Linked DNA regions of Homo sapiens. The protein of the gene in region 4 purifies or fractionates together with the protein of the main gene of each other region. This does not show direct contact. Each region holds a gene or a part of one and is shown on either strand. Other genes may lie near its edges. The genes, in order: CCDC50, IPO8, GTF2IRD1 and ZNF382.

Region 1 (7,630 bases), on a different chromosome or scaffold from region 4:
TAGAAAAACTTAACAATACCATTGACCAAGATCTAATCAACATAAAGATAGCCCCTGACTATATGACAATGGTGTTACATCTGGATAAATGTAATCTGAATATGATTACAAAAATGAGGAGGGGGTTACATCTGGATAAATCCATCATAAATTGAAAATATTAAGTTGAAAAGGCACTTTCAACTTAATCAGTTTATGTAGACATAACCCCAACATAAGTCAAGGAGAGTGAGTATATAGAACACTCCACCCAACAGCAACACATGTGCTTTTTAGTGCTTATGGAACATATACTAAAATAGGCAATATCCCAGGCCATAAAACAAACTTCAACAAATTTAATGAAATTGGAATCATGCAGAATCAAACTAGAAATGGGAGATTTTTAGAAGATATCAGGAAAATTCTTCTGGAGCAATTGAACATGCAGGCAAAATATGTAAACCTTATCCTAAACCTTCACACTTTATACAAAAATCCACTCCAAAATGGAGAAAATTTTCAGGATGTTGGGCTAGAGAGCTCTCAGGTTTGGCACCAAATAATAATCCATAAAAGAAAAAACTGATATACACCAATTGGTACTGTCCAGGCCAGAAAAGTCCATTTTCATATATACATAAACCCTTATAGAGTCAATGACAGATTTACCTGTGTTTGAGAGCCCCTGCAGCCTGGTCAGGGATGTGAGGGAATGAGGGATGGACAGGTCAGCAGGAAAGGTTTCAAAAAGATTAGGCACAAAGAGCACTGCTAGTGATGGCAAAGATCAGGTAATGACACAAAATACTTTAAAGTGGCAGGCATACTTAAGGGTATGTTATGATCTACATGATCAAAACCAAATTTGCATCATTAGGCTGAGGAATCGATAAGAAAAGTGGGTGTGTCCTGGAAGTATGGTATGCAAGACATACTAGTGGAGTTAATTTACAAGAACATCCGAAGACCATTTGAGGAAAGAGGCTCAAATTTCAGCCTTGGGAATAAAACATAGAGATGGGTATTGGTTAGAAAAACACATAACAAGTTAATGACAATCTACTGGATGTGGAGACAGAAGTAGCAAAATACTGCAGTAAAGAACAAAAGATCATGGTTGTCTTTCATGATGGAATGCCTAGGAAGTCTTTGTGATTTTACAGGACCCAGCAGTGAATAAAGCTGCTCTCTTCCTGGCAACATCTTAAAAGAAACCAGCAGCCGTTGACCGCAGGAATCCTCAAATGTTATACTTGAAGTAGTGCTTCAGGCAAGTGAACTGAGGTACAGCAGGATAAATGATGTCCCAAGGTCCTGAAACAAGCTCATAGCAAAACCTGGACTAGGACCCCGTATCTCATTCCTGTAGATTTCTTTAGTACACTGATTTCGCAGCAGCCTTTAGTTTATGTTCGTTCATTTAAGCATGATACCCAAACACAATGGAGGAGGGGCATTGGTCTTCCTGCCCTTGAAATGGGGGCAAAATTGTCTTGAAACCATGGTTCTAGGATTTGTAGTAGTCCAAAACCCTCTTAAAGGTTTCACCAAATTTCGAAGGTGTGCGAGGTAGATAGTGGTCTCTTAGCTGTTGTAAGAAGGAACTGGCCAGGCGCGGTGGCTCATGCCTGCAATCCCAGCACTTTGGGAGGCCGAGGCAGGCGGATCATGAGGTCAGGACATCGAGATCATCCTGGCTAACACGGTGAAAACCCATCTCTACTAAAAATACAAAAAAATTAGCCAGGCATGGTGGTGGGCACCTGTAGTCCCAGCTACTTGGGAGGCTGAGGCAGGAGAATGGCGTGAACCCGGGAGGCGGAGCTTGCAGTGAGCCGAGATCGCGCCACTGCACTCCAGCCTGGGCGACAGAGCAAGACTCTATCTCAAAAAAAAAAAAAAAAAAAAAAAAAGAAGGAACTTTCTTGTATGCTACCTTTTCACATGGCCACATGGCCATAGCCTGACAATCAGACTCAAGTCATATTCCCCATAAACCACCCTATCACCTTGAGTACCTCTTACCACAGATTAAAGGGATCTGTTTTACTTGCATATTTAATTTTTTAGTTGGCTTCTAGATGCATCAACTTTTTCCACTGGCAACTTTAGTATTTATTTAGAGACCAAAGGTTGAAATCAACATACTAATCTTCAACTAAATAAAACAGTATCACCTGCACATCACTGGTACTACTCAGGATCTAGCAGAGACTACAGAAATCATTTAGATTTCCTGCTATATTTGCCACAGAGGAATCTGAGGCCTAGAGAATCTACTGTAGGGGTGGCTAAATAGTGACATCTTTAAAAATAAATTTAGTAGTCATTGAAAATATTATATTTAAGATACCTAATTTTTGCAGAATCATTTCCTACATTGTGGCTATTCTATCAAACCAAATAAGAAAAAAAAAATTCTTATGAAGGTAAAATATTGAATAAATCAGTTATTAATATCCATTTCTCAAAATACATTGAAGTGTCCACAAGGTGTCAGGTATAGTGCAGAGTTGTGCATGGGGTCTTTAATCACTGGAATTATTGTGTGAACATCCACTTACCTGTTTTTTTTCCTCCCAAATATATCAATCAAACCACGAAACACCACACACAAAACAAAGCTACTTCTCCAACTGATCCACACTTGGCAGTATTTATTGAGGATTTCAATACACCAGGCATCATTATCATGTTATACATATTTACAGAAAGTGTATGGAAATGGAGTAAGAAAAAATTTCACTGTTACTAAACAGACCTATTAGGGTCATTTTGTAAATAATAATAATTATAATAAGACTCTCGTAAGTTTCCCTGTCCTTGAATGCTGTAAAGAAACAAAACAAAAACATGAGACAGAGACCACTGACTTAACAAATGGATGACTTTATTAAGAGAGAAGGACAAGACTGATGTTTACCTTGGTCAAACCATCCAGGAAAACAAAGCACACAGACTTATAGAATACTTTGGTTTAAAAATTATTCATAATATCAATATTAAACCTGATGTTTAAAGAACCTAATGAGAAATATAGTGTAAAAAACAAACCATGAAAACACAAGTTTGCATAGATGAATTAATGTAGATGTACAATTGGCATTTAAAAAAGGAGGTTTGCGTTTTGGGAGTGCCTTAACGATGTTGAACACCTCAACCTCCCAAGACACATGAAAGTCACCAGCACCACAATTCTCATTTTCCTCAATGAGGTCATGAGCAGGAACAACTTGTGCTGTACGGAGGTGAACTGAAAGAGACTGCTTCCATTGGCCTAGTCCAGATGAGTGTATATATTCCCATCAGAACCCACCACTGGTCATCTTTAAGGCATCCACAAAATGTCCCTCACAAATTCACTTAATCTCTAGATAGGCATGTGGTCTGAGGCAGCCTCTTTGTTTTCTGTCCTCACACAGGCAACTGCATTCCATCAAGGTTCTGTTCAATTCCACGAACTAGCTATTTCAAAGCTGCCTATTCTTCTGGGGCTTGGTTATAAATCCATGTGGATTTGGAATAACAATCCATTTGTTTTATAAATATATCCACATTCCAAATATCAAAGGGGCACTTCCTAAGGAATCTGAAAGTGCCCAGGCAATGCGTAGTCTCTCTCTCAAGAGATCACGTTTCTAAATTATGAGACAAATGATAGCATCACCTCAGGTTTCCTGGGCAACTTGATTTATATGAGCAAACTCTTGTACTTTTTAATTCAGCACCTTTTCAAAATATGTGCTGGGATGGATTCTTCTTAGGGAAAGCCCCATATAGAATTCTCATTTTGGAGCATCATTTTTATATGCTATCTCCCCAGTGTATCTTCTCAATATTTATAACACTTTATGAAATAAATATTGGGTTGCCTGTAAGAAGAGAAAAATATAGCTCTTTCTGAGAAAGAGCATTTGGCTTGCAGTTTACAGCAAGAGCTGAAATTAGAGACCATAGGGATTTCCAAGACCAATTTGACCAGAAATACAAAAATTCTGATGTCAAAAACCCTCTCACAAAATTTAACAGGTAGAAATTATTTTAGCAGTATAGCCTGAAATCCAGTGCAACAAAAATGTATCCCAATTCTATGATATGTCATAGTATGTTCTCTTAGCTGTCTTCCCTTACTTGTTCTTACTCCTTACTTGATCTTTTGGGAAGAAAATGTCGCCCAAACCCATCTTTCAATTTTTCTATTCTTTATATGAACCTCAGCAATGAATAACAGGGCATTAAGTTACACAATTAATTATGCCCTTATCTGAAATGCTGAAACCTGCACAGTGCTGGTTCTCTATGCTATGAAGTTAACTCAAAAAGAGAAAAAACATTTTCTTCTAGTTTGCTGAGAATGTACAAATGCATCTTAAATCTATTAAAATGTTACTAGGCAGTGTTCACATATTTATATATATAAGGGAAAGAGAATGGTTTTTAGGGCCATATATTTCTACAACTCAACATGATTACACGATTGTGTTAGCCTGTGGCATCAAACAGAATCACCACTCTGGTGTCTTTCTTATCAAAGCAAAAGTTTTCCTGCTTTTCTCTTATAAGTAATAAAACAGAAACACTCTTCACATTAGCAAACCTCCCATTTCAAGTAAATGTCTCTGTTTTGTTCGGTTTTCTCCTTTTTTTTCCCTGTTAATGGTTAAGCATTTCAATACACAAGGGTGTTGGTGAAATTCTTACAAATAATCTGAATGTCTTCACTGCATAACAGAACCTTTGGAAATATCTTCTATGTAGTCACCATAGAAGACAGTCAACTCTCAGTTACTCAAGAAGTGGTACCTGGTATGAAGGATTTGGCCAAGAAATTCTCTCCTTCTACCAGTCTTTTTGGTCATGCCACTGCTTATTCAGAGGTGGACAGACAACATGAAATAAAATTATGTATTTATTGTGTTACAGATCAGCCACAAGTCAGTGGCAGAAAAGGTCCAAAGCTTCTGATGACAAGGATACTTGGGGATCATCTGTGAATGTTATATCTCAATGGAAAGCTGACTGTCAGTCACATAAAGGAAGTAACGTACACTGACATCAGTCAGAGTCAAACTAATTTAAGGCAGTACTGCTCCTCACAAACAGTGCTGGCATAAAGTGCAGGTCTCATTGTAAAAGTGACTCTGTAGTAGTAAGATTTTCTCAGTTTACTCTTTCTTTCTTGACTTCTCTACAATTAAATTTCAGCATTTCTAATGACAGTTGTTAAATACCAGGAGCAACAATATCCTGACTCTTTAATATTCTTACCTCTCGCCATGGATAAAAGAGATTCTTCCACCAATAATTTGAAAGACATTGTGCCCCATGCAGCATTAACAGGACAGTCTCCAGTTTGCTTCTACCTGCCCATATTACTTATCATGGGCTAAAAAGAAAAAAAGTATTCTATCAACAGTAAGATAAGCAGATATGGCTTTAAGACTCACAGGCACCACCAGAAATGAGAAAATTGGACCATTTTATATAGTCACTTCTCTATGAGCAGTAAGTAATAGACAAAGTAATTTAAAAATCTTTTTTCCTTTTTGCTGAAGCATGAGGTTTTGATTTTGTTATGATCGTTTCAACAGAATATGGCACTCTATGTACAATGAAGTCTACCTTAGCACTCCTTACACAAATACCGTCTTCTCAAAAGGGAAAAAGCCTTTGGCTGCAAGTTCTATTCTATTATCAGTCCTTCAGAAAGCTGTTTACACAGAGATCTCACTCCTTTATTAGGGTGAAGATTTTACAGCCAATCATCATAGTTATCTTTCAAGAAAATAATCACTGAATAATGAATCATCTTGGTATTCCCCAAAGCGATGCTTATACAAAGGCAAGACATAAAAAATCTAGGACTTAAAATGTTAACCACTTGTGGAGTAAACTGAATGCACCATATTATAGTGGGTATTTCCAATTTGGCACAACACAAATTTTAGACAAGTTTTGACAGAAACTATTAAAGAAAATTAATAATCAGTTAAAAGCTAATTATTTTTATACTGAAAAGTTCTAACTTTGAGAGAAAGTGATGAGCAACAGTCAGCAAAGAATTTACTCATCATCTAGCTCAGCTTCAGGACACATTAGAGAAGAAAAGCGGGGTTAATGAATCAGGTCCAGAATTTTCTAGAGTGAGTTCAGTAAACACAAAGCCCAAGGTCACACATTTTGGAATATGTTGACCTAGATCCAAGTGGTCATTGCCATTCTAAAAAGGTTTTCCTCCTAAAAGCATCTATCCATATCTTTCTTTTCTAATTTAGCTATTTCTCTATCATCAGAACACCTAGGGTTAATTTTCATTTTCTGCTTTTGTAATTTATTGGTATGCTGCTGCTGGTTGTAAAGTAACTTGGGAAATAGCAATTCAATAGTATGTAAAGCCACTTTCTGAAAATCACAATGTTCCCTTAAATACATGTAAAGCAACTGTCTAGTCCCAAAATAAAATACTTATGTCTAATAAAATACTTACGTCTAACAGTGGTTTGAACGCAAAAGTCAAATATTTTTCAAGTCAAAACATTTAATTTGACTCTTATCTAACTTTACTTCCAAACAATGATTTATAAAATGTGGAGGAGAGTGGGTGTCTATGTCAAGCAGCCTTATGATAAGGCTCCGTCATATATTGTGCTTATTCAACAATACTGGTGTTAATGAGGCCTGGCCTCCAAAGGACAAAGATACAGAAACAGAAAGGTTTTCCCAGGCCAGAAGTATTAGTTTACATCACAACATTAAAGCATAATACACTGTGGGCCTAAAAATTAAACTGCATGTGTTCTAGCAGCAGGAACAACAACAACAACAACAAAATGCTTTCACATTTATATAAAAATGACAAAGTAAAAAGCAGAGAACACAGTGAAAAGTGTCTGGCAGTTCATTAAAATACAGTTGAGTTGCTTCTATAGTCTCAAACATTATTATATTATTTGAATGAGAAAGAGTATGAGGATTTAACTGGCTGAATTTCATTTCTATCTCCTTATTCATAGGGTAATAATTACTCTGATATTATTTTAAAAGTGTTTGCTTTACACAAAAATAAAATAAACATAAAATATTTTAAAATTGTAATCTTTTAAAAACCTTTAAAAAAAGTAACAAATTTTCAATAAAGATGTTGAATTAGCTATCACAAGGTGATAGCTTACTTGGTCACTTACTAAAACAGCTGAAACACTAACATTCCTGGTAAGTGTTAAGTGGTCCGACTTTTTTTTGAATGCAGTATCTCCAGTTAACATTTTACAATAATAAATAACTGGATGAAGTACATGAGAGGCAAGAGAAATGCAGAATTTTTAAAGTAAAACTGATCATTGTATGAGATAGAAAAATAAATATTTATGAAATAAAAAATGGCAAATGATTTTGCCTAGTTATCAAATAAAAATACATTGTTTTTTTCCTTTAAAATTACAATAAAAAAACTTTGAAGGACACGAAGCGAAATCACAGGGCAGATAAAGAAAAATATAGCATTACTATAAGTAAACAAGGCCTAAGCTTTGGATATTGAAAGCACTATCTGGAATTTGACTTAAGGCCAGGACCTTCCATTTTGTCTCCCCTTCCTTATTTAAATGGAGGTTTTTCTTTACCCATTTTATCACAGCTATAAAAAGTC
Region 2 (7,364 bases), on a different chromosome or scaffold from region 4:
CTCAGTCCAGAATTCAAGGCCACTATAGCCCAGCCCAACTGCGTTCCTTCACAGTCTTTAAGCAGTGGCCCCTACATGCTGGTTTAAAGTTGCTTGTCACTTGAGAAGCATCTTTAAAAATACATCTCCTGAGATCCTACTCAAGACCTAAAAGCCTCCTTGGTGATTATGACACACCCATGTCTGGAACTACACTAGGCCACATCCTCCATATTTCCATCTCCACGTTTATGCTGTTACGTTTCCCATGCTTTGGAATATAGTTTCCTGTGTTCTCTGCCTCCAATTCCTCTGAATTTCAATAAGAACATCTAGGTAGTTTTTTCTTCATTAATGTTATTTGTAGCAACACTAAAAAATGCCAATATATTAAGCTAATATTGCCTTATTAGTAAAAACATTTACATGTAAGGATGTTCATTTTAATAACCCTCATAATGGTAAAAACATTGGAAACAATCTTAAATGTCCCACAGTGGAACTAAATTACAATGTAACTATGGAAATACTATCTAACCATAAAACAAATAATCTATATTAATGAGATTTAAAATAATTTATTTGATTAATAATTTTCTAAATATCCTCATTGGCTTGTTTTTATTCTGTAAATTTTCCATTTCCATTTTCTACTAGGTTACTGGTCTTATGTATCTGAGGATGGCCTCTGTACACTGTGTACATTATGCCTATTATGCATATGTGGCAAATATTTTCTCCCCCCGAATCATTTATGAGTCCTGTAACTGTAATTATACTGTTCTTTGTTGTATAAAATTGGCAAATTACTTACAAAGTAAAAAGTCACCCTCTTACGGCAGCAATTTCATTCTAGGGATTGTGAATAACTAGTAGGTTGTTAGCCACAATTTTTAAGCAATGTATGCCTGAAACACTTCATTCTTTGCTATAAAAATGCTTGCCCATTTATGCCTAAAGGATGAACAATATACACAGATACTCCACATATTACTTTTGCAAGGATAACATACAGGCTCACCCTGCTACTTCTCAATGATGAAAGCTGCTAGGATTGGGTGATAGGTGTTTCATTATTTTAATTTCTATCATTTCATGTATGTATGTTTGGGGATTTCTATCATAAGGAATAAACAAAAAAATTTTTAAAAGAACCTAGACCAATCTTGGGCAAATATCAAAACAGGAAGAAATGAAGAAAGAGTTTAGAAAAAAAAATATCAGAAGATGTGGGGAAGTAAAGACATACTTATCAGAGCTTGTGTAAAAAACTGATATTCATCCACACTATTGTCAAGGTCAAGTGGAGTACTGAACCCCTCAAGCGCGGTTTCTTCCAATACTTCTTCATCCCAGTCATCATCTTCCTCCTCCTCATCTTCACCTCTTCCATTATTTGACTGCATTGCTTGAGCAGTTACATTTGTCTCCTCTTCATCACTTGAAATCTCCTCTGTGAACCCATTAATTATTTAAAAGGAATCAAAACACATAAGGACAAAATATAAAACTTCACGACAAAAACCAAAGACTATAAAACTACACTCTGGAAAGGAAAAAATCTTCCACAAAATTTTAATAAAAATAAATCTTATCCCTGGTCTAAAGAGGAGAGTCAAAAAATAAAAATAAAAAATAAAATAAATAAACCTTATCTTTACTGTAGAGTTTGCTAAGTTGAGAATGTCCTTATCCTCCTCACTGAAAACAAGTTCCCTAAACCTGTTATCCAGATGAACATTACTACTGTTAGGCTATGCAAGTTCATTAATACAAGAATATTATTCAATTGCAGATTTCAAAATTACCTTTGTTTAAAAAAAAAGTGACTGTACGGTCAGTGCATGTGTTTTAAACAATGACTTCCTATTGAGAATTCAGTCCTCTTAATTAACTGAGTTGATTATAAAGTGCTTAGAAATGCCCAAATGAGATCATTTCTGCTAGTAGAAACAGTAAAAATACAGATCCAGCCATCCCACTTCAGGATATATATCTAAAATATTTTAAATCAATACGTAGAACAGATGTCAGCAGCCCTGTGTTCATCGCAGCATTATTCACAATAGCCAAGTTACAGAATCAACCTAAGTGTCCATCAACAACGGATGAATAAAGAAAATGTGGATTCTTTAAAATGAAACACTATTCAGCTTTTAAAAAGGTAATTCTGTCAATTCCAACAACACTGATGAACTTGGACATTATGATAAGTGAAATAAGCCAGGCACAGAAAGACACATACTGCCTGTTCTCACTTATACATAGAATCTAAAACAATCAAACTCATAGAAGTAGAGAATAGAATGGTGGTTACCAGAGGCTAGAGGTGGTGGGAATATGGGAATGTTGGTAAAAGGGTACAAAGTCTCAGGAAGAATTAGGTTTTTGTTTTGTTTTGTTTTGTTTTGGTATCTATTGTACAGCATGGTGAATACAGTTAATAGTATATGTACATTTCAAAATTGGCAAGATTGTAAATTTCAAATGTTCCCACCATTAAAAAGGGTATTTAAGGTGATGGATATATTAGTTTGATTTAATCATTCCGCATTATATTCACAAATCATAACATCACTTTGTACTCCATAAATATATAATTTGCTAATTTATAATAAAAAGAAATAGCAAAAATGTAAAGAAAAATAGCTACATGTCGCTTGAAAAGTTAAAAACTTGAACTACATTATGTATCACCATGGATTCTGTATCTATTTTCAGTGTCAATCTGTTCCTAGCAGTTAGATTGTAACTGAAATACTGGAACAGGAAGGCAGTAAATGCAGAACAAAAATCAAGATAAGAGAGAAATCCTGGAGTAAACCCAAACCAGGTAATATTAACCTAAAACTAGTTCTATTAGACACACCATATTGAAGCAGGTAGATTGAACTAGGTAGTTTTAGGAATAAGGCACTTAACCAGAGTTTGGACCAAATACACGAAAAAATGCATGGCAAATTATAACTATTAATACAAAAAGACTGAGAAATACCTCCACTAGTTAATCATTCCATACTTTAGTAGGAAGTACAAGAAAGTGTGGGATATTACCAGAAAATTTTCCCTCAAGCCATACAGTATAAGCCAATAAAGAGTTGCCAAAACAAGAAATTAGAGATCATAACATACTGGAAAAAATAAAAGAATTCTACAACTGTTGACACACAGTTAGCTAAAAACAAAACAAAACAAAACAAAAATCACACATGCAACACTTCTAATAAAGAAGCATTTCTTCAAAAGACCTACACAGATTTCAGAAAAACAAATTAGAAGCTGTATTTTGTGCTGTGGAGGGGAGAAAAAGGGTAGTTTATAATCTCTGGTATATGAACAAACTGGGATGATGCCAGTTAAAAGTGTTTTAAATCTATCCATGCTAAAATCACAGAATTTAGCATCAAAAATAGAGCTGTATGTTTACCAGGAAGAGTTCTGATTTTTCTCAGCTAACAAAGTATCTGTTTTTAACCAGGAGAGGAAAAAATCCACCTGGAATAGGAGAATGCTACTTCCTAGTCTCTAGCAAGTAGCTCCGCAATCTCATCATTAAACAAAACAAAGGTCTAATATTCAACTCTAACAATCTTATTCTGATTCTCAAGTATATCCACTTCATTTATGTACTTTACCTTAATTTATATTTAAATCACAAATATGGACGTCTCTCAAATGTAATTTTTGCTAATGAGTCACCTAAGAACCATTCCAGAAAAAGAAAAAAAAGACACTCTCTACTAATCTGTGGTACTAACACTTCAGCTCTTAATGTAATGATTCATTTAACTCATGGCTACTGCCTTGATGAGGCTGTTAGCACAAACAAGAAAGTTAGATACTAGATTGCTAACTTACAGTCAAGACCATTTGATTGTTATAAATGTGTTTCCTAATGTGTAACAGCATCTATTAGGCTCCATAAAAAAAACCGCTGAGTATATTAGGTGTCAGAAGGTGCATAAATCTAAATTTATATAGCATGATACAATTAATAGCAAGTCAACCAAGCCCAAAATATTTGTTATATGTGTAGCAGGCCGAAGAATGTAAATCTGTTTAATGTCTCCATATAGACTAGTATTCATATAAAATGCATACACAAATCAAAATCAATTGTAACATTAATTTCAATTAGAAGACTTTACCATTTTCTTCCATATCAGCTTTCTCTGCTTTTGAACGATCTTCCCGGTTTACCAGTTGTCTAGTAGCACAGACCTGCTTTAGGCCAAGGAAAAGGAAAAGAATTGAGGGAACAATCTGTCCCACCACAGCATCTACTGCAGGAGGTCGATTTTGCAATTCCAAAAGGATACTCAGTCCTATTATACACATCTTCCGGTCATGATGCCTGCAAATTTTGAAGAAAAAAAAAATGTAGACATGAGAAGTGGAATAAAGAACAAATTCTGGAGAAACTACAAAAAGAAATGTCCAAGGCATACTCTAAGGTTCATCTGTTGGTATCATACAGAGACATTCCCTGTTTTGTACTGTATGAAATGCTATGTAAATCAAATTTTGTAAACCAATTATTTTCAAAGACCTATTGGGAGTCTGCAATTAACATGGTGAATCTTGCTGTAATATCAATTTATGATTAATATAAATGTTATATATGGGCCTCGGCATAAGGAGTTTTAATAAAGCAGAAATACCTATATTTGACAGCATAAAAGTCCTATACAATGGTTGGGGGGAATGAAGAGTTTCTTAGACTCTTCCAACATTAGATTGATCTACAAGGTTTCTCAGCACACATAATCTACCCAAACCCTAAGAGGTGAAAGATGTTTCAAAAACTCAGCATCTAGTAAGATAGTAAGCTGAACTTAATTTAAGCAGTCTACTAAACTCCTGTGCTATAAAATAGCATAAGAAAAATATAAGGACAAGGAAAATTTTATTCAGAAAGAAAAAAAGTTTGACCAGTAAACATTAGACATTTTTCTACTAAATGCTTCCTCTAAGTTGCTTAAAACTAAAAAATTAAGAACTAAAAGATTACATTGGCAAAACATTCTTAAAATTGTGTGAATAAAAAATTCACTTGCAGCGATTCAATGTGTTTAAAGTGCGAATAATATAACAAATCCAATAATGAATATTCTACAGGCTTCTGTTATTCTTCATTATTTGCATTCCTTGATTGATTCAAGTCACTAATGCCCAACTAGTACGCTATAACAGAACTGTACTTGACCTGAGGACCTTCTCATCCATGCAACCCCTAAATACATGCCACACGGATCACAGCAGAAAAGAGGATTATCAAGCAGAGCTCGAAAGAATCCAAGGAAGCACAACCCAAGGACTCCCAGTCTACACAATAGCAGGGAGACTGCTTCCAGTGCTAATAAACACATAAGAGAACCAACCGCTTAACTTTAAATTACCAAATCTCTACTCCCTAAATCTTTCTCAGAGATAACTTTAACAACAATTTCTTTGATAGTATGTTCTTCCCTTCAAGGTTTTAATAACAAATCTCAATCAGGGATTAATTCCAGTGTCCTGCAAGTAGAAAAATTAGAACACGCATAGCAGCTTGTAAATATGTTCCCCCATTCCTAACGCCCCACCCTAATCCAGGCCTCCATCTTCTCCTGCCTGTGGCAGCAGTGTCTTAACCACTGTGGGGAGTCTGTTCCTCTCAGGAAATTTTTCTAAATGATCTCTCACAAAACTTAAGAAGAATACTATTAATTTCCAGTTAGATATTAGATAGTGTTTTAAAACAAATTAGACAGCTAGCTCAATTTCTAGCATAACACAATCACTAATCTGTGTTGGGTGACCTGAGGTGGGCACATAACACTAGTTGGAATCTCACTCTTCCTATTTTTTTGAGATGGAGTCTCACTCTGTCGCCCAGGCTGGAGTGCAGTGGCACGATCTCAGCTCACTGCAAGCTCCGCCTCCCAGGTTCATGCCATTCTCCTGCCTCAGCCTCCCGAGTAGCTGGGACTACAGGTGCCCACCACCACGCCCTGCTAGCTTTTTTGTGTGCTTTTTTAGTAGAGATGGGGTTTCACCGTGTTAGCCAGAATGGTCTCGATCTCCTGACCTCGTGATCCACCCGCCTCGGCCTCCCAAAGTGCTGGGATTACAGATGGGAGCCACCGCGCCCGGCCTCACTCTTCCTATTTTTGAAAACTAGGAAGAGTGCTTCACATAAAACCAAATTCTCCTACTGGGGCAGCACCTGGGCTACAAATAACAAGCCTTCTGACTCCACTTTTGAGAACAGGCATCCCTGAGATCTGCAAAGAGTTAAACATTCTGTGACATTACATTTTATCTTTGCCAGAGGGGTACCATCCTTAGAAATCCAACTCCATTTAGAATGTTTTTACCCACTGACACTTAATCATGGAACCCAGACAGACAACTAATTCTTGTTGCCTAGAGATACAATGATACACTTGTGTTTAAAAAAAATAAATAAAAAAAATAAAAGCGGGAAAGGGCTACATCAAATTTTCAGAGGCTGCATTCTTTCCACTAGATTACCCTGCTGAAATGCATTCTTAATCCTCTAAAAATTAAATATTAACAATACACTAAAAATAATTCCTAAGACATGAAAATTATCTTTGTACATGCTATTATACACAAATATTAAAAAGCAAACTTTCCAGAAACAGAAAAGCAGTGTAAAATCCAAAAGACACATACCCAAGAAAACAATCTGTATCATTCATCCATTGATTTATAAACTGTACAGTGATAGGTCCAGGGTTGTGAGGCAACTGAATTCGTTCTAAAGTATGTAGCAGCAAATCAGGGTTGTAGTACAAGGCAGCAATTGCAACCTGAAGACACATAGTACGAAGCTCACTAGTTTTGACCCCTCGAGTTAATCTCTCCAAAACAAGTTGAACGAAGAGTGGAATGCACTAGAAGACAAGCAAAAGAAAGTCAACCACACAGACAGCCCAAGTAACTTTTATAGAAGCTGAATATTGGCAGAGCATTCTCAATAAATAAGACAGTCTTAATGGCAATGAGACTTTTGACTAAATCATTTTAGAGGTATTTAAAAGATTTATATTATTATAACAACCTAGAGAGACTAAATAGACAAAAACAAGTCCTATAGCAGTGCCAGAAAATCTCCTTCCTTCTTAAGTAAATTAAAGTCAGCTGAAGATTGTCCTGTAAGAGTCCACGCTCAAACAGTGTCAATAATCCCTATGTGGACACAGCCACTTGCACATCTAAGGTGAAATCACTGCATGTCATTTTCTTTGACAAATTAAATTGGAAATAAATAAATGGGACTGAAAATAATTATGATGTAATCAGATTGTTTTTGAGAAAGAAAATTCCTGTTAATATAAGATGAAAAAGGCTAAAGAAAAAATGGTGGAGCCTGAACA
Region 3 (7,364 bases), on a different chromosome or scaffold from region 4:
ACACCCACCCGCCCCATCCTAAGTACCCTGGGCATGATGGGCTTGACACCTCTCCTGGGCTCCTCACCCCTGGCCAGCAGCCAGGGAGTGAGACCCTGCCTCGCCTGGCGTGGGCCCAGGGAAGGGGGCCGCTGTGCCGCTGAGAGTTCGTTCCACCCTCCTGGCAGTGCTGGAGGGGGCTGGAGCTCTGGCGTCTGGCCTAGTGACCCTACCTCCCAGGACCAAGGTCCTGCGGTGGGAGTCTCCTGTGTCCCCATCCCAGCTGAAGCGAGGGTGCTGGGACATAGGGGTCTCGCTGCAGGGCCTGTGAGGGGAGCACTGACTCTTGGATGGAGAATGTGCCAAGGGGTACCCCGGGATGGCCCTGGGCCTGGCGGGTGGGAGTGGAGGGCAGGCCCCCGCAGTTTTTGGAGAAGTGGGCATTTGCTGGGGTTTCTCTTAGAAGAGGAGAGGGGTGTCTAGAAGCCACCCTGGCGCGCCGCTGCCATGGTCGGCCTCTGTGTGTCTGGCTGCCCCGTGGCCAGGACTGTTGACTCCTTGGCACTGGCCCGGGGCCTTGGGACTTGGAAGGTGCCCCAAGCAGCTCATTTATTTCAGCAGTGTCATTCCAGAGGGGAAGGGCACCAGCATCGATTATTTATTCTAAGCAGGAGGAGGTGGCTGGAGGCTGGTGGCTGCTGGCAGGGAGGGGCTAGGTATAAGGTAGTTAGGTGGCCGTCATGAACCGCCCTATTTGGGGCCCAGGAGGGTGTGAGATAGACTCTGACCTCTTCTGAGCAGGCATCTGCGGACCAAGGGACAGGCTTGGCCCCAAGGTGACAGGGTATCGGAACCCCCATCCTGCCTCTGGGGTGTGGGAGGCTCAAGTCCACACCTCGTTCTTCCACAGCCTGTTCTGAGGGTGACCTAGAAATTGGCAGTTCTAACTCAGAGGGTCCCACAGGACCCCACAGAGGAAACTAGGAAGGAAGGGTTGAAACTCCGCAGCCACTCAGAGCCTGCACTCTTAAAATGTTCGAGAACTTAAGGCCGATGGTTGTAAAACTGGGTCTTGAAGACAGCTTTGTAGGGGGCACGCTAAACCTACTTAAAAGGACTGTTCTCTCGATGTTGGGAGAAGGGTCATTTATTTGCAGTATGCTAATCACAAATAATTTTTATCTGTTCATTGAAGGCAGCCTCCCAGGAGCCCGGCTAGCCTTCTGATGAGGTGGTAGTCGTCAGCACTTGGTGTTTGGCAATAGTCTGAGTGGCAGCTGTAATCTAGGGTCTTGGAGGTAGCTGTTTTTGCAGCCTGCTTGACTCCAGAGGCCAGGCCATCCACGGTTTGGTGACAGCTTGGTTGTTGGACCTGGGGTCTTGTGGATGGTGGGTGATGGCTTGGGACATTCACGTCCTAAGCATGACCTTGGAACCATAGACTGCAGCTCCCAGATGATTCTCATTCAGGGTCTAGTCTCTGACCACTCACTGCTTCCTCAGCCGACTCATAAATCCTGTAGTCTGGCCGGGCGCAGTGGCTCACGCCTGTAATCCCAGCACTTTGGGAGGCCGAGGTGGGTGGATCACGAGGTCAGGAGTTCAAGACCAGCCTGGCCAACATGGTGAAACCCCATCTCTACTAAAAATACAAAAAATTAGCCAGGCGTGGTGGCAGGCATCTGTAATCCCAGCTGCTCGGGAGGCTGAGGCAGGAGAATCGCTTGAACCCGGGAGGTGGAGGTTGCAGTGAGCCAAGACCGCACCACTGTACTCCAGCCTGGGCAACAGAGCAAGACTCCATCTAAAAAAAAAAAAAGAAAAAATTCTGTAGTCTTGCCGTTTTCCTGAATGGCCTGGCTTCCTCCTACCCCTGGCCTCTGCACACACAGTTCCTCTTCTCTCGAAGGTTCTTCTTGGCCTTTCCCCTGAGGAGGCTGGGGGGCTTCCTTTATTAGCCCTGCCTGGCTAGGGTAGGGGGTCAGGATTATAGAATTTGCCTCTTTTCCTCTCCTTCAGGACTTGGCTTGGCTGTGGTATCTTTGGGCTGAAGACTTCCTCGTCCTCAGGGCTGGCCATGGTTCCACCTTTATATCCCCATGATGTCCTCTCTTTTTTTTCTTTTTTTCTTTTTTTGAGACAGTCTTGCTCTGTGCCCAGGCTGGGGTGCAGTAGTGTGATCACAGCTCACTGCAGCCTCGAACTCCTGGACTCAAGCCACCCTCCCACCCCAGCCTCACAAGTAGCTGGGACCGCAGACAAGGGCCACTACACCTGGTTAATTTTTTATTGTTTGTAGAGATGGGGTCTTGCTATGTTGCCCAGGCTGGTTTCGAACTCCTGGGCATGAGGAGTCCTCCCACCTTGGCCTCTCAAAGTGCTGGGATGACAGGAGTGAACCACCGCGCCTAGCCAACATCCTTTCCTTCCTTTGTCCCAACATTGATCTTACTCAGATGTTTACATCTCTCTCCCCAATTGCACTAGGGACAGGAAGGGATGGAGGCTTGCTCCTCAAATACTTGTTAAATGGCTACATGTTTGAATGAATGAATGAATGAAATCCTGCTCTTGAGCCTTGACCTAAATGGCTAAGCAGACTCTCTCCTATTTTTCTTAAATGCTCATCTCTGGGGCAAGTTCCCCACCCTGGTAGGAGTCCCAGGGTCTCTCCCTGAACTTCCTGGGGCCCCCTCTCTCCCCACTACCCCAGCCTGTGTCTTCTCCCAACCTTAACCCTGGGGGCTTTGCTCCCCAATGTCATCCTCTCTGTATCTCTCAGTTCTCTGACTCTCGCCGTTTGTAAGTATCTCTCTCTCAGATGCGTGGCAGCCAGGGTCACAGCCAGGTTCTTTGGGACAAGCCAGGGGTGTATGCCCAGCTCCATGGGGCCTGCAGAGGCTTCAGGGGACACCCATGGAAGAAGACCTGCAGGGCCAATTTATAAACAGAGGAGCAGAGCAGGACCCAGGGCTTGGAATCCATGCTGAGTTACGTTTTTGTTTTTTTTTTTTTTTTTTTGAGAGGGAGTCTCACTTTGTCGCCCAGGCTGGCATGCAGTGGCGCCATCTCGGCTCACTGCAACCTCTGCCTCCTGGGTTCAAGCGATTCTCCTGCCTCAAGTAGCCGGGATTACAGGCATGCTCTACCACGCCCGGCTAATTTTTGTATTTTTAGTAGAGATGGGGTTTCATCATGTTGGCCAGTCTGGTCTAGAACTCCTGACCTCAAGTGATCTGCCCGCCTCTGCCTCCCAAAGTGCTGGGATTGCAGGCATGAGACACTGCGCCCGGTCCTGAGTTCAGTTTTGATTGGGGGGCTTCCGGGATAATATGGGGCCGCTAGGACAGGGACCCTTAGTGTGACTGGAAGGGAATTTCCTGAAGGAATTCATAGCAGAGGTGGAGTGGTGGGAAGGATGGTTTCTGGGGGAGAAGGAGATGCGTGAACCTGGCCAGAAGACAGTGTGTTGTGACAGATGATTGCTGGTGAGGGGGTAACAGTCTCCAAGGTGTAGATGTTGGGGGCTCCAGATACGGCAGGAGGGGCCTGGCCTCTCGGAATCCCCTCAGCCCCATCTCATAGAAACATGTGCTTTCTACCCAGGCTCCATACTCCGGAAGGGAGGCAGGACCCTGTCACTTTCTTGGCCTACTTTGGAAGTTCTCAGTCAGGTATCTCCAGGTGTGGCAGAGGGGCTTTGGCCTGTAGGGGGTGTGGTAATGTGGGTTTTGGAGGCAGAAAGCTTTTCAGGAAAGCCCCCTGGTCCATCACCCCCCTTTCTTTTTTTTTTTTTTGAGATGGAGTCTTGCTTTGTTGCCCACGCTGGAGTGCAGTGGCACGATCCCAACTCACTGCAACTTCCACCTCCCGGGTTCAAGTGATTCTCGTGCCTCAGCCTCCCGAGTAGCTGGGATTACAGATGTACACCACCACACCTGGCTAATTTTTGTATTTTTAGTAGAGACGGGGTTTCACCATGTTCGCCAGGCTGGTCTTGAATGAACCCCTGACCTCAAGTGATTGGCCCTCCTTGGCCTCCCAAAGTGCTGGGATTACAGGTGTGAGCCCCCAGGCCCGGCCTCATCATCACTTCTTCACCCACCCTATTTTGGTAGCTCTCTCTCCACTCGTCCTGTGGAACTGATCCATTCTCGGTCCCATTCCCTTCTCTCTGGGCCAATCTGCACCTAGGTTTGTGGCTTCATGAGTATGGAGGGTCGTGCAGAAAGGGGCCAGGTCTGTAGGAACCTGGGTTCATGCCCTGGAAATTTGCCCATTTAAGATAAGTTAGGGCCGGGTGCGGTGGCTCATGCCTGTAATCCCCAGCACTTTGCACTTCGGGAGACCGAGGCGGGCGGATCACCTGAGGTCAGGAGTTTGACTAGCCTGGCCAACACGGTGAAACCCCATCTCTACTAAAAATACAAAAATTAGCCAGGCGTAGTGGCGGGCGCCTGTAATCCCAACTGCTCGGGAGGCTGAGGCAAGAGAATTGCTTGAACCTAAGAGGTGAAGGTTGCCGTGAGCTGAGATCGTACCATTGCACTCCAGCCTGGGCGACAAGAGTGAAACTCTGTCTCAAAAAAAAAAAGATAAGATAGGTGTCCTGAATAAGATAGGTGAAATGGGTGAGGATGTACTTTATCTTACACGGTCTTAGGGAGTGTCTCAGGCGGTGAACAGAACTCTCTCGCCCCTGAGCTGGGGCCTGGCTGACCCAGAGCTATTTGTGTGCCCACCTGTCACCCTCTTTCAGGACCACCTGCTTCAGGTTGCCAGATTTAGCAAATAAAAATAAGGATGCCCAGCTAAAATTGGATTTCAGACAAGCAAGGACTAATGCAATATTTGGGATGAACTTCTAGCTAAAAGTTACCTGTTGTTGATCTGTAGTTCAGACTGAACTGGAGGTCTTGCATTTTATCTGCCAACCCTACAACTGCTGCCTCTGGGGCGGTGAGATGGATGGGGTTTGGGGAGGGGCCAGAGGTGTGTGTGGCTGACCCTGGAGTTGGGATCAGGGCTCAGTGGAGGCCCCGGGGATGATCTGGAGCGAGTTTGAATCGAGTGGAGCTGATTCACTGAATCTTGGCTTTTTTTTTTTTAATTTGTATTGAAATGAGGTCTCACTCTGTCACCCAGGCTGGAGTGCAGTGGCACAATCTCGGCTCACTGCAGCTTCTCCCTCCCCGGCTCAAGCGATCCTTCTGGCTCAGTCTCCCAAGTAGGTGGGACCACAGGCACACGCCACCGTGCCCGGCTAATTTTTTGTATTTTTGGTGGAGATGGGGTTTCGCCATGTTGCCCAGTTCCTGAGTTCAAGTGATCTCAAAGTGCTGGAATTACAGAAGTGAGCCACTGTACCCAGCCAGCAGGGTCCTTTTTCATTTTTATTTTATTCTATTTTTTGAGACAGTGTCTCACTCTGTTTCCCAGGCTGGAGTGCAGTGGCGTGATCCTACCTCACTGCAACCTCCAACTCCTGGGCTCAATGTGATCCTCCCACCTCAGCCTCTGCACCTAGCTAATTAAAAAAAAATTTTTTTTTTTTAGAGATGGGGTCTTGCGATGTTGCCCAGGCTGGTCTCAAGCTCCTGGCCTCAAGCGATCCTCCCACCTCAGCTTCCCAAAGTGCTGGGATTACAGGCAGTATCCTTCTAATGTCCTTGGTCGGGCCTCCTCCAGCCTGTGGCTCGAGGGTCTAGATCTCCTACTGGCCTGGGTGGCATGGAGGGTGTAGTCTAGGTGGCCTGAGGGGTGCCCAGGGATCCCCAGTTTGGGAAGTCCTTGTCTTCAGGGATTTCTGGCCAATGTGGTCCGTATATTTAGAGATGCTGGGAGGAGGGGGTGGGAAATTGCTGGAAACACCCTATTATACACCAAGTAAGATTTTCATGTAGGATTGGCAAGGCCTGAGTGCTGGGAAAGTGTCTGCAATGGCTACCTTTCAAAGCTGGGAGACCCCGCCACGGGGGCGGTTGTGGACTTGAGGGGCTGACCCCACAGCACGGAGGCTGCTGGGAATTCCTGCACCTTTGCCATGCTGCCACCTGAGGCAGGTTCCCAGCACCTGAGCTGCAGCCTCTGGAGTGGGGGAAATGGGGGGAAAGTAAGGGGCCGGGGTCATGGGGTCCACGTCCACCTTCCGCCCGCCTGGGCAGTTTTCTTGGATGTAAAAGGGAGATGGCTCTCCCCAACCTGCCTGGGTCCCAGTGTGGTGCTGTAGTCCAAGGGACTTGGTGTGACCCCGTGGGGATGCCACAGCATGGGTGTGTGGGACCCCCGGGGGCAGGTCTGTGGTGGAGACAGGGTGGGAGGGCCTGGCTTGAGGGCTTGCGGTCCTGGGCACTTGAGGATGCAGAAGAGGCTGCATGGTTGGGGAGGGTAGGTAAGCAGGGGGCAGCTTAGCCCTTTCCCCTCCTGTTCCCTGTGACAGAGGGGAGACCCTCCAGGCTGTTTGTGTCTTAGATGGTTGGCCGAGGGTAGGCCTCTTTGCTGGCTGGGGTCTAGCAGGGTCTCAAGGTGCATTTTCTGGCTACTGGCAGAACCACCATCAAAGCAAGTCCGTATCTTTTCGTCTATCCATCTGTTGTTACGCCAGCCAGTGAGGACCTTGCAGAGGCGTCAGGCCTGAGGGAGTCTCATTAGGTCCTGGTCCCCAGCCCCCGGCTGGCACATGAGAAGGGCCCACTTTATATTTTATTTTATTTATTTATTTAAGATGGAGTCTCACTCTGTCACCCAGGCTGGAGTGCAGTGGCGCGATCTCGGCTCGCTGCAACCTCTGCCTCCCGGGTTCAAGCAATTCTCTTGCCTCAGCCTCCTGAGTAGCTGGGATTATGGGTGCATGCCACCTCGCCCAGCCAATTTTTGTATTTTTAGTAGAGATGGGGTTTTGCCATCTTAGCCAGGCTGGTTTTGAACTCCTGATCTCAAGTGATCTGTCCACCTTGACTTCCCGGAGTGCTGGGATTACAGGCGTGAGCCACTGTGTCCGGCCCCACTTTATATTTTATTAAAAATATCGTTGAGGAGTGAAGGCTATGCTATACCAGGAACTTGCCTGGCTCACACCCTTATGTCGTCCAACCCCCGTCAAGACATAGAACAGCGCTTTGGGAGGCTGAGGCGGGAGGATGGCTTGAGGCCAGGAGTTTGAGACTAGCCTAGACAACATAGTGAAACCTCCATCTCTACAAGAAGTACAAAAATTAGCCAGGCGAGGTGGCTCATGCCTGTAGCCCCAGCTACTCAGGAGGCTGCGGCGGGAGGATCACTTGAGGCCAAGAATTTGAGACCAGCCTGGGCAACATAGCAAGACCCCGTCTCTTAAAAAAAAAATTAGCCGGGTGTGGTGATGTGTGCCTGTAGCCCCAGCTACT
Region 4 (8,064 bases):
TCGACTTTAAAACTATTGAAGTAAGATAAAGATACAACTTCAAGGTAGTAAATGAGGTATACATTAATGTCTTACCAAAGTTAATACCTTACACTACACAAGTGATGATATAATCATATTTTCTTTTCTTTCTTTCCTTTTCTTTTCTTTTTTTTTTTTGAGACAGTCTCACTCTTTCACTCAGGCTGGAGTGCAGTGGTGCAATCTCAACTCACTGCAACCTCGTCTCCCAGGTTCAAGTGGTTCTCGTGCTTCAGCCTCCAGAGTAGCTGGGATTACAGGCATGTGCCACCACACCCAGCTAATTTTTGTACTTTTTAGTAGAGACTGGGTTTCACCATGTTGGCCAGGCTGGTCTTGAACTCCTGGCCTCAAGTGATCCACCTGCCTCGGCCTCCCAAAGTGCTGGGATTACAGGCGTGAGCCACTGTGCCTGGCAATATAATATTTTCTGCCAAAAAAATAATCACCTCTAATCCCTGAAATTCAAAGTCCTATATGTTTCAGGAATTCTTAGAAGGAGATGCATGACAGTGAAAGATTCAGGAGTGTTTCTTACCCACAGATACGAAGTGGCAATAGTTTTCCAACATCACATCCCTGTAAAGCGCCTTCTGAGCAGGGTCTAGTTGCTGCCACTCCTCCTGGGTGAAGTCCACAGTCACATCCTTGAATGACACTGATCCCTGTAAGGGCATACTCTAGTTCATCCTGAAGTGATCGGAAATGTGTGAGAACTAGATATTGGAGACCTAGTACTGACAATGTTTACTGGTCAGACTAGTTTCCTTATTTATGTTTTATATTGCATAAAATTCTCTCTGAAAATACATCCATTTGTATTTACTTATAATCTCATGCTAAACATACTGAGATCACACTATTTGTCCTGAATGTGACTGGTTGCCTGGTAGACCAAAATGAATAAAACCCTGACCCTGCTCATGAGAAGTTATAGGCTAAGAGAGGGGCATACATGTAAATACATGCACTTAGTAGGTTTTACAGATGCAATGACAGAAATACGTACAAGGTAAAGTGTCACAAAACAAGGAAAAATTTCATTTTGTACTCCGAGGCTTCATTGAGGACATAAAAGTTTTGTACTCACAACGAATTTGTTTTGTAGGAATACAGGGCATCAGCTTTTAAAAATTCATGGGGAGAAAAAAACCAGTTAGTAAATCAGGAAATAGCAAAAGGCACAGTATGTTAGGAAACAGTCTTTGAGCTCTAAGAAGGAAAAGGTATATGGAGATAGGCAATGGGGATATTATGACATGATACTAGATTTTTTTTTCCTACAGAACAGTGGTCTTAAAGATATACTGAACACATTCCCAACATTGTAGCTATTTATAAACCATCAATAGGCATTTATGAAAATCTACATTGTTAATGAATACTGCTCTCGAATGTAAATTGTTAGTATTTTATTTCCTTCCAATAGACCGTCTTATACATTCTACTGTGAGGCATGCCCTACTTTGGGTCTGTTGCTTTAAGGAATGTAAAGAACATCAATAAACATAAGTTGACACACGTTATGTGATAAAAGTTTTGAGGTAATACTCCTGAAGACTGGAAAAGGCTTATCACATGTTAGGTGGAAATGACAATTAAGTAACCATGGTTAGAAATGTCTCCTAGATTAAGGAAGTGTCAGCGGGCTGACAGAGGACAACTGCTCCTACATGACCACCATTACAACAGAGATGGTCGTAAATTGGCTGTAGAGTGGAAAAGATACAGGCATTTTATCTGCATAGGCAAATGCATGGCTGCTGGGACTAGAAAGTGAAAATGGGAAACGGAAGAAAATGTAAGCTGGACCAAAGGAAGTAATGAGGTAAGCTTTGGAAATGTACTTTGTCTGTGGAACATACAGGTGGTGATAGCTACTGGAGGTTGAATATTCGGTTCTGACACTCTGGACAGAGGTCTAGAGTGGAGAGGGGTATTTGAGAGTCACTAGAATCACACTAAGTGTAGCCTTCAGAGTGAATCTGATTGTGCGTAGAGAAAAACGGACTGTGAAGAAGAAGAGAACCAATTAGCATCTGAGGAAAACCAGTATTTTAAAGGTTGGTGGATGAGCTAAAGAGGAATTTTCTGAAAGATATGAAAAGAGGACAAAGTACTGTTTGATCAACAATAGAATATTTCAAAAGTGGCCTGGCATATGGATTTCCTTCTCCTGCACCCGCAAATAAAAAATTAGAAGAAACTAAAAAGAAAATAACAAATCTCTAACAGCATTGGAATACTGGAAAGGTTTTCACTGGCAGCCCACAATTTGTAGGAATGGCTAGCAGACATGAATGAAAAAAGATCAGAGAGGAGGAACATAAAACGTGTTTCCTTTACAAGCCTGCAATCAAATTGCTATCCTAAACACCTCACAAAGCAGGACATCTTTCCAGAAACTAATGCTGGGATCTACCACTTCTATTTCCCAACGTACCATTGCAAAACCTAGGCTAGCGGAGATCATCAAGGTTTTTCCACGTCTGCTCCATGACTACTCACAGCTTAGGTCTCAAATCAGCATCAGGACAAGTTAAATTCATTCAAGCCATATATTCCCATTTAAATCAAGACAATACCTTTCTATTCCAGCAGTTTGTTTGTGAGAAGACTGAGAAAGGAGATGATGAATGATATACCCAATGAATATGTACAACCAGAAGGTACACTTGGGGAAGGCTTAAGTTGATTTGGTTGGAATGGAGAAATTGTGAACAGGGCTGGATACAGGGTGAGGCAGGTGAGGCACCTAGAATGCAAAATTTAGGAGGGCACAGCCCTGAGGGTACCCCTTAAATATTTCACCTCATGCCACTTGCCTGCCTCAGCCTAATCTGGCCCTGACTGAAGACTAATTTCATGGAAGCAAATCCCAATATCAGGGAAGGTTAAAGGACAGTGAAGCTCATGTTCATACACCATGAAAAAAAGTTATTTCAGAAAGAGAGGAAACATCATCTCACCTGAGACATGGCTTTGAGATTTCTAGATGAACTTTCTCTTTTGAGCTCCTCTTTTGGAAAAAGAAACAGTCCTGAGAAAGCAAAGATGGAGGATATACGTATGTGAGACCATACTTGACTCAGAACTCCCAGAATTAACTCAGTTAAATCTGCATGAATGTTCACTATTTCAGCACTTGTCCACCCTGTGTACCCTTCAGATGTCCAGGATGGTAGTTAGTGGGAAAACAGACAAATCAGGCTCCCTCACAAACACCAGAAACCCAGTCTCTTGGTAAAGTATACAGGATTCTGGGGAACCTGTTTTAGCTTGAAGAGAGGGAACACTGTGTTTTTCCCTCTGCAGCTCTGCCTTCCATCTACCTCTAACCACAGGTTTACTGTGTATTTCCAAACGGTTCTTCTTGGACTTTTTGCCAATTTACACTGATAGTAGTGGATGAGAATACCTTCCCAAGCCCTGATGAAGACAGTTGACAACTTTTAAATCTTTGCCTATCTGGTCTATGTTGTAGTTGAGAATAATCTTTTTTTTTTTTTTTTTTGAGACAGAGTTTCACTCTTGTTGCCCAGGCTGGAGTGCAATGGTACAATCTTGACTGACCGCAACCTCCACCTCCCGGGTTCAAGCGATTCTCCTGCCTCAGCCTCCTGAGTAGCTGGGATTACAGGCATGCACCACCATGCCCGGCTAATTTTGTATTTTTAGTAGAGATGGGGTTTCTCCATGTTGGTCAGGCTGGTCTCGAATTCTCGATCTCAGGTGATCTGCCCACCTTGGCCTCCCAAAATGCTGGGATTACAGGCATCAGTCACTGCACCAGGCCCGCAAAATAACTATTTTAATTACTACAGTGAGACTGGACTTATTAAAAATCTATCAAATACTTTTTATTATCTTAGCAAGCCTAAGGGAGTAGGAAACCTCACTCATATACAAGTGTTGAAAGTGGTAGTTATGCCAGGCACAGTGGCTCACACCTGTAATCCCAGTACTTTGGCAGGCCGAGGGGGCGGGGGGAGGGGATCACTTGAGGTCAGGAGTTCAAGACCAGCCTGGGCAACATGGTGAAACCCCATCTCTACTAAAAATACAAAAACTAGCCGAGCGTGGTGGCACAAGCCTGTAGTCCCAGCTACTCAGGAAGCTGGGGCAGGAGAATCACTTGAACTTCAGAGGTAGAGGTGGCAGTGAGCAGAGATCATGCCACTACACTCCAGCCTGGGCAAAAGAGCAAGACCTTGTCTTAAAACAAACAAAAAACAACAACAAAAGTGGTAGTTATGGTAAAAAAAAAAAAAAAAAAAAAATTTCCTGCATGTCCCCAATGGAATGCTATTCATTTCAACATACTGGTTTTAGTTAATATGGTGTTTCCAGGAAATGAATCTGGGAATTATGAAAATCATCTCTTCCCCTCTGATACTGTTATCTCTATTTTATTTGCTAAATTGCTACTTAGTTACAGTTTTGGAGGCAGGCTTAATGGCTACTATTCAGATAATCAAGTCTTACATAACCAACTAGCCATGGTCATAACAGAGTTCCTCAATCATTCAAATATTTAGGTCACTAAGGCCACAAAACCACCAGAAGTAACAGTAGGTTACAAACACATGCAGAGTCACAGTCAATCAAACATCCTTCAGAGAACCACCAACCTACAGGCCCCACTTGTCATTCACAACCTCAGACAGCAGCTAACACGACTCCAGGCAGTCACAACCACACCTACAAATCACTTGCAATTCTCCACACTCAAAGGCAGTCTCAAATGCGACTCACACCTAATCTAAAAATAGACACACGCAGAGGAAACCTCGCGCAGCAACACTACTCCGTTCACTTTTCACACACAATCGGCCACAACATCCCAAAGAGAGGCAAGCACCTAAAATGCAGCAGGTTGGGCGCAGGAGGCCACCCCTATTCAGCGCGCGCCCGCGCGCGCGAACACACAGCGCCCGCTCCGCGCGGGGACCCGCCGCCAGCGATGGCGCTTCCGCGGGATCAGAACGGGCAAAATCCCCCTTCGCGGAGCTCGCTCCGGGTCACCCTCAAGGTCACGCCCATGGACCACGCCCGAGGCCCGGCTCGTACAGATCGGAGCGTCTGGATACCGCGGTCCCGGTTTCCTCCTCAGAATTTCCAGGCCCGGCTCGGACTCTTGGTTACCTCCCTGGCCTCCCCACCCGGTTCCGCGTCCTTAGACAGCTCTCCCGGAACGGAGCTCCCAGTGCCCTCCTTGGCCTCCTCAGCACCCCTGGCACCCACCAAGCCTCACCCCCGGCCCAGGGTGAGTCGTCTGCGCCTGCGCACTCGCGCGTGGGCCTGAGCTCCCAGGAGTCTCCGGGGCGGCCCGTTAGTCGCCGCGCGGTGCTAGCTGCCGGCGCTCCCCTCCGTTTGCACCCACGGCCGCCCTATTGCGGCTGGCACTACGCTTCTGCCAGGACCCCGGCTCCCTTTTCCGTTGACCTGGTGTTCGTTTTCCATGTGGTGAGTTGAGGTGACCCGGGTCTGGATGCGAGAAGAGCTCACGGCAGGGGACCTGGGTTCATGGGACGCGGAGAGGGTTTGTGGAGGCAGAAGCCCCAGGCCTGTGTGCAAGTCACCTGCTGGGGAGGGAGACTGTGTGATTGTGTTTGTGTGTGCCGTTCTGTGGCTGCGTCCGTGTGTGGTGGTGTGAGTGGGCGCGCCTGTGATGGTCCCGGGGGGGCGGGGGGTGTGCACAGCAGGGGGTGTGTGTGCACAGCAGGTGCACAGCCCGGGACAGCCCTGACTGTCCCCGATTGGGCCCGCGGGACTGAGTGGGGGCGGGGCCGTTTGTGTGACGGCGCTGAGCGGTGACTATGAATGTGTCATGCTGTTATCAGTGATCCTGTGACAGCGCTGTTGTGACCCACTGGAGACTGTGATCAAAACTGGCCTGGTGCAGCTTTTGTAGAGTTTGATTTCTGCAGTTCTGGGGCTCAGGAATACGTGGACAAGGTCCCCGTATGGCTCGATCTGTGTCTGTGAAGACTCTGAGACCTTCTGTTCTAAAGCATGGCCCCTGTCGCTTTCATAATGCATAATACACAGTGGCATGCAGCCTCGCCAACCTCTGGGGCCAATTTTAAGTTACGTGGTTTCTTGGAGTTTGTTATACTGGGATTTCTTTCACTGCCTCAGTCATTTCACCTTATAACCACGTTGCACAGTGTGCAGTCAAATGGCTATCGAAAAGAAAGTTGGATATTTGAGATCCAGAATGAAGTTTCCAACTGAAAAAGCACAGCCTTGTGTTTCACATGGACAAGGCTGTGTTCTGATATGCACAGCCTCGTGTTTGATATGGAGATGTTAGAGCTGGAATTGCTCCCAAGGCAAGGTTCTGGGAAGATATGATATTGAGGCCCCAGGAGTAGGATTCGTTTCTCCAAAGATTTTGTGTGTGTGTGTGAGATGGAGTTTTGCTCTTGTTGCCCAGGCTGGAGTGCAGTGGCGCAATCTCGGCTCATTGCAACCTCCGCCTTCCGGGTTCAAGCAATTCTCCTGCCTCAGCCTCCCGAGTAGCTGGGATTACAGGCATGCACCACCATGCCCGGCTCATTTTTGTATTTTTAGTAGAGACGGGGTTTCACCATGTTGGTCAGACTGGTCTCGAACTCCTGACCTCAGGTGATCCACCCGCCTCGGCTTCCCAAAGTGCTGGGATTACAGGCGTGAGCCACCGTGCCTAGCCAAAAGATCCCTTTTGGAAGCTCTGTGGGGGCAAGTTGAATATTGCAGATCCACAGCATTTTCATAGCTGTCTAAAGGAAATTATTGTGAATACAGAAACATTTCAGTCCCAGGCTTTGGTGAACCTGACTTTTCTTTATGAAGGGAAGAGTCAACAATATTCCAGTCTTTCTCATACTTCCATCTGGTCATATTCAGCATGGGTTATGGAAGCTTGCCGGTGGTGAAGAATGTGTTCTTATTTAGCCTGTCTGGGCTCCAAGAAAGGCTGAGTATATTGTGATTCCCTTTCTTTCCACATTTTGCTGTATTCCAAGAGAAGAGCTCTGAGAGAAGAAAAGCATTGTAGTTGCACATTTTAAAGCAAAGCTGGAGGTCATTTTGATTTTTTTCTTTGTTTTATGAAATGCATTTTTGTTTTTCAGGATGTGGAATAACTTCATTTGAAATGCTCACCAAATAGTGACTTATCTATTTACCTGGTCTCTAGTCCTTCTCTTCCCAGTTACTGATGACATTATGAAGACAGATCTCCTTCTTTCCAGTACCTCATCAGATGCCCTTCCTAGAGTTAATTTTCATATAACACCTTGACAGTATGTTCACTTCTCCTGTGTGCTCTTTTTGTTTAAGCATTCTCATGACATAGAAATAGTCTGCCTTCACACGGTGATTTGTTACGGAGGAGACCAATTGCTTAGGTAGAATTACACATTAGATAGTTTAGATTTTCTTCAGAGACATGAGTGGAAAAACAGCAAGATAGGAGATCGTTTGAATGGTTATAGTAACTTTTTTTGTTTTAGAGGACCTTAGGAGTTAGAATATTATTGCAGAGTATGTGCAGAGAGAGCTGTTAAGAAGGGCAGGAAGTTTTTCCGAGGGGATACCTTAGGAGATTTATATGGTACCAGCTAGTTCTTGCATGAGGTTTGGCCGCATCACGTGTTTTTTTTTTTTTTTCTTTTGAGACGGAGTTTCACTTTTGTTGCCCAGGCTGGAGTGCAATGGTGCGATCTTGGCTCACTGAAACCTCCGCCTTCTGGGTTCAAGCGATTCTCCTCCCTCAGCCTCCCGAGTAGCTGGGATTACAGGCATGCGCCACCATGCCTGGCTAGTTTTGTATTTTTAGTAGAGACGGGGTTTCTCCATGTTGATCAGGCTGGTCCTGAACTCCCCCCACCTCAGGTGATCCACCTGCCTCAGTCTCACAAAGTGCTGGGATTACAGGCGTGAGCCACCGTGCCCGGCCAGGTGTTTTTTTCTTTTTTTCCCCCAAGTCACATAACTGTGTAGACTGTGTGAGTATGGTATAATGGTCTCTGGGTCTAGAACAGGGGTTTGCAAACT

What was found.
Region 1: the proteins of ZNF382 (region 4) and CCDC50 purify together in Homo sapiens (affinity purification with mass spectrometry; one large-scale study listed by BioGRID and IntAct). This does not show direct contact.
Region 2: the proteins of ZNF382 (region 4) and IPO8 purify together in Homo sapiens (co-immunoprecipitation; 2 studies listed by BioGRID and IntAct, with this or other methods). This does not show direct contact.
Region 3: the proteins of ZNF382 (region 4) and GTF2IRD1 purify together in Homo sapiens (affinity purification with mass spectrometry; one large-scale study listed by BioGRID and IntAct). This does not show direct contact.

What each region holds. Positions count from the first base shown.
Region 1 is NC_000003.12:191,393,654-191,401,283, reverse strand, and holds the end of CCDC50 (coiled-coil domain-containing protein 50 long isoform), read right to left. Parts: 3' UTR 2,625-7,630; downstream 1-2,624.
Region 2 is NC_000012.12:30,632,855-30,640,218, forward strand, and holds part of IPO8 (importin-8), read right to left. Parts: intron 6,882-7,364; coding exon 6,661-6,881; intron 4,334-6,660; coding exon 4,128-4,333; intron 1,433-4,127; coding exon 1,229-1,432; intron 1-1,228. UniProt on the Homo sapiens protein: Involved in nuclear protein import, either by acting as autonomous nuclear transport receptor or as an adapter-like protein in association with the importin-beta subunit KPNB1.
Region 3 is NC_000007.14:74,454,897-74,462,260, forward strand, and holds part of GTF2IRD1 (general transcription factor II-I repeat domain-containing protein 1), read left to right. Parts: intron 1-7,364. UniProt on the Homo sapiens protein: May be a transcription regulator involved in cell-cycle progression and skeletal muscle differentiation. May repress GTF2I transcriptional functions, by preventing its nuclear residency, or by inhibiting its transcriptional activation.
Region 4 is NC_000019.10:36,602,549-36,610,612, reverse strand, and holds the start of ZNF382 (zinc finger protein 382), read right to left. Parts: upstream 5,301-8,064; 5' UTR 5,266-5,300; exon of another isoform or gene 4,883-5,265; intron 3,062-4,882; 5' UTR 3,000-3,061; coding exon of another isoform or gene 2,991-2,999; intron 1,146-2,990; exon of another isoform or gene 1,112-1,145; intron 712-1,111; 5' UTR 699-711; coding exon 560-698; intron 1-559. UniProt on the Homo sapiens protein: Functions as a sequence-specific transcriptional repressor.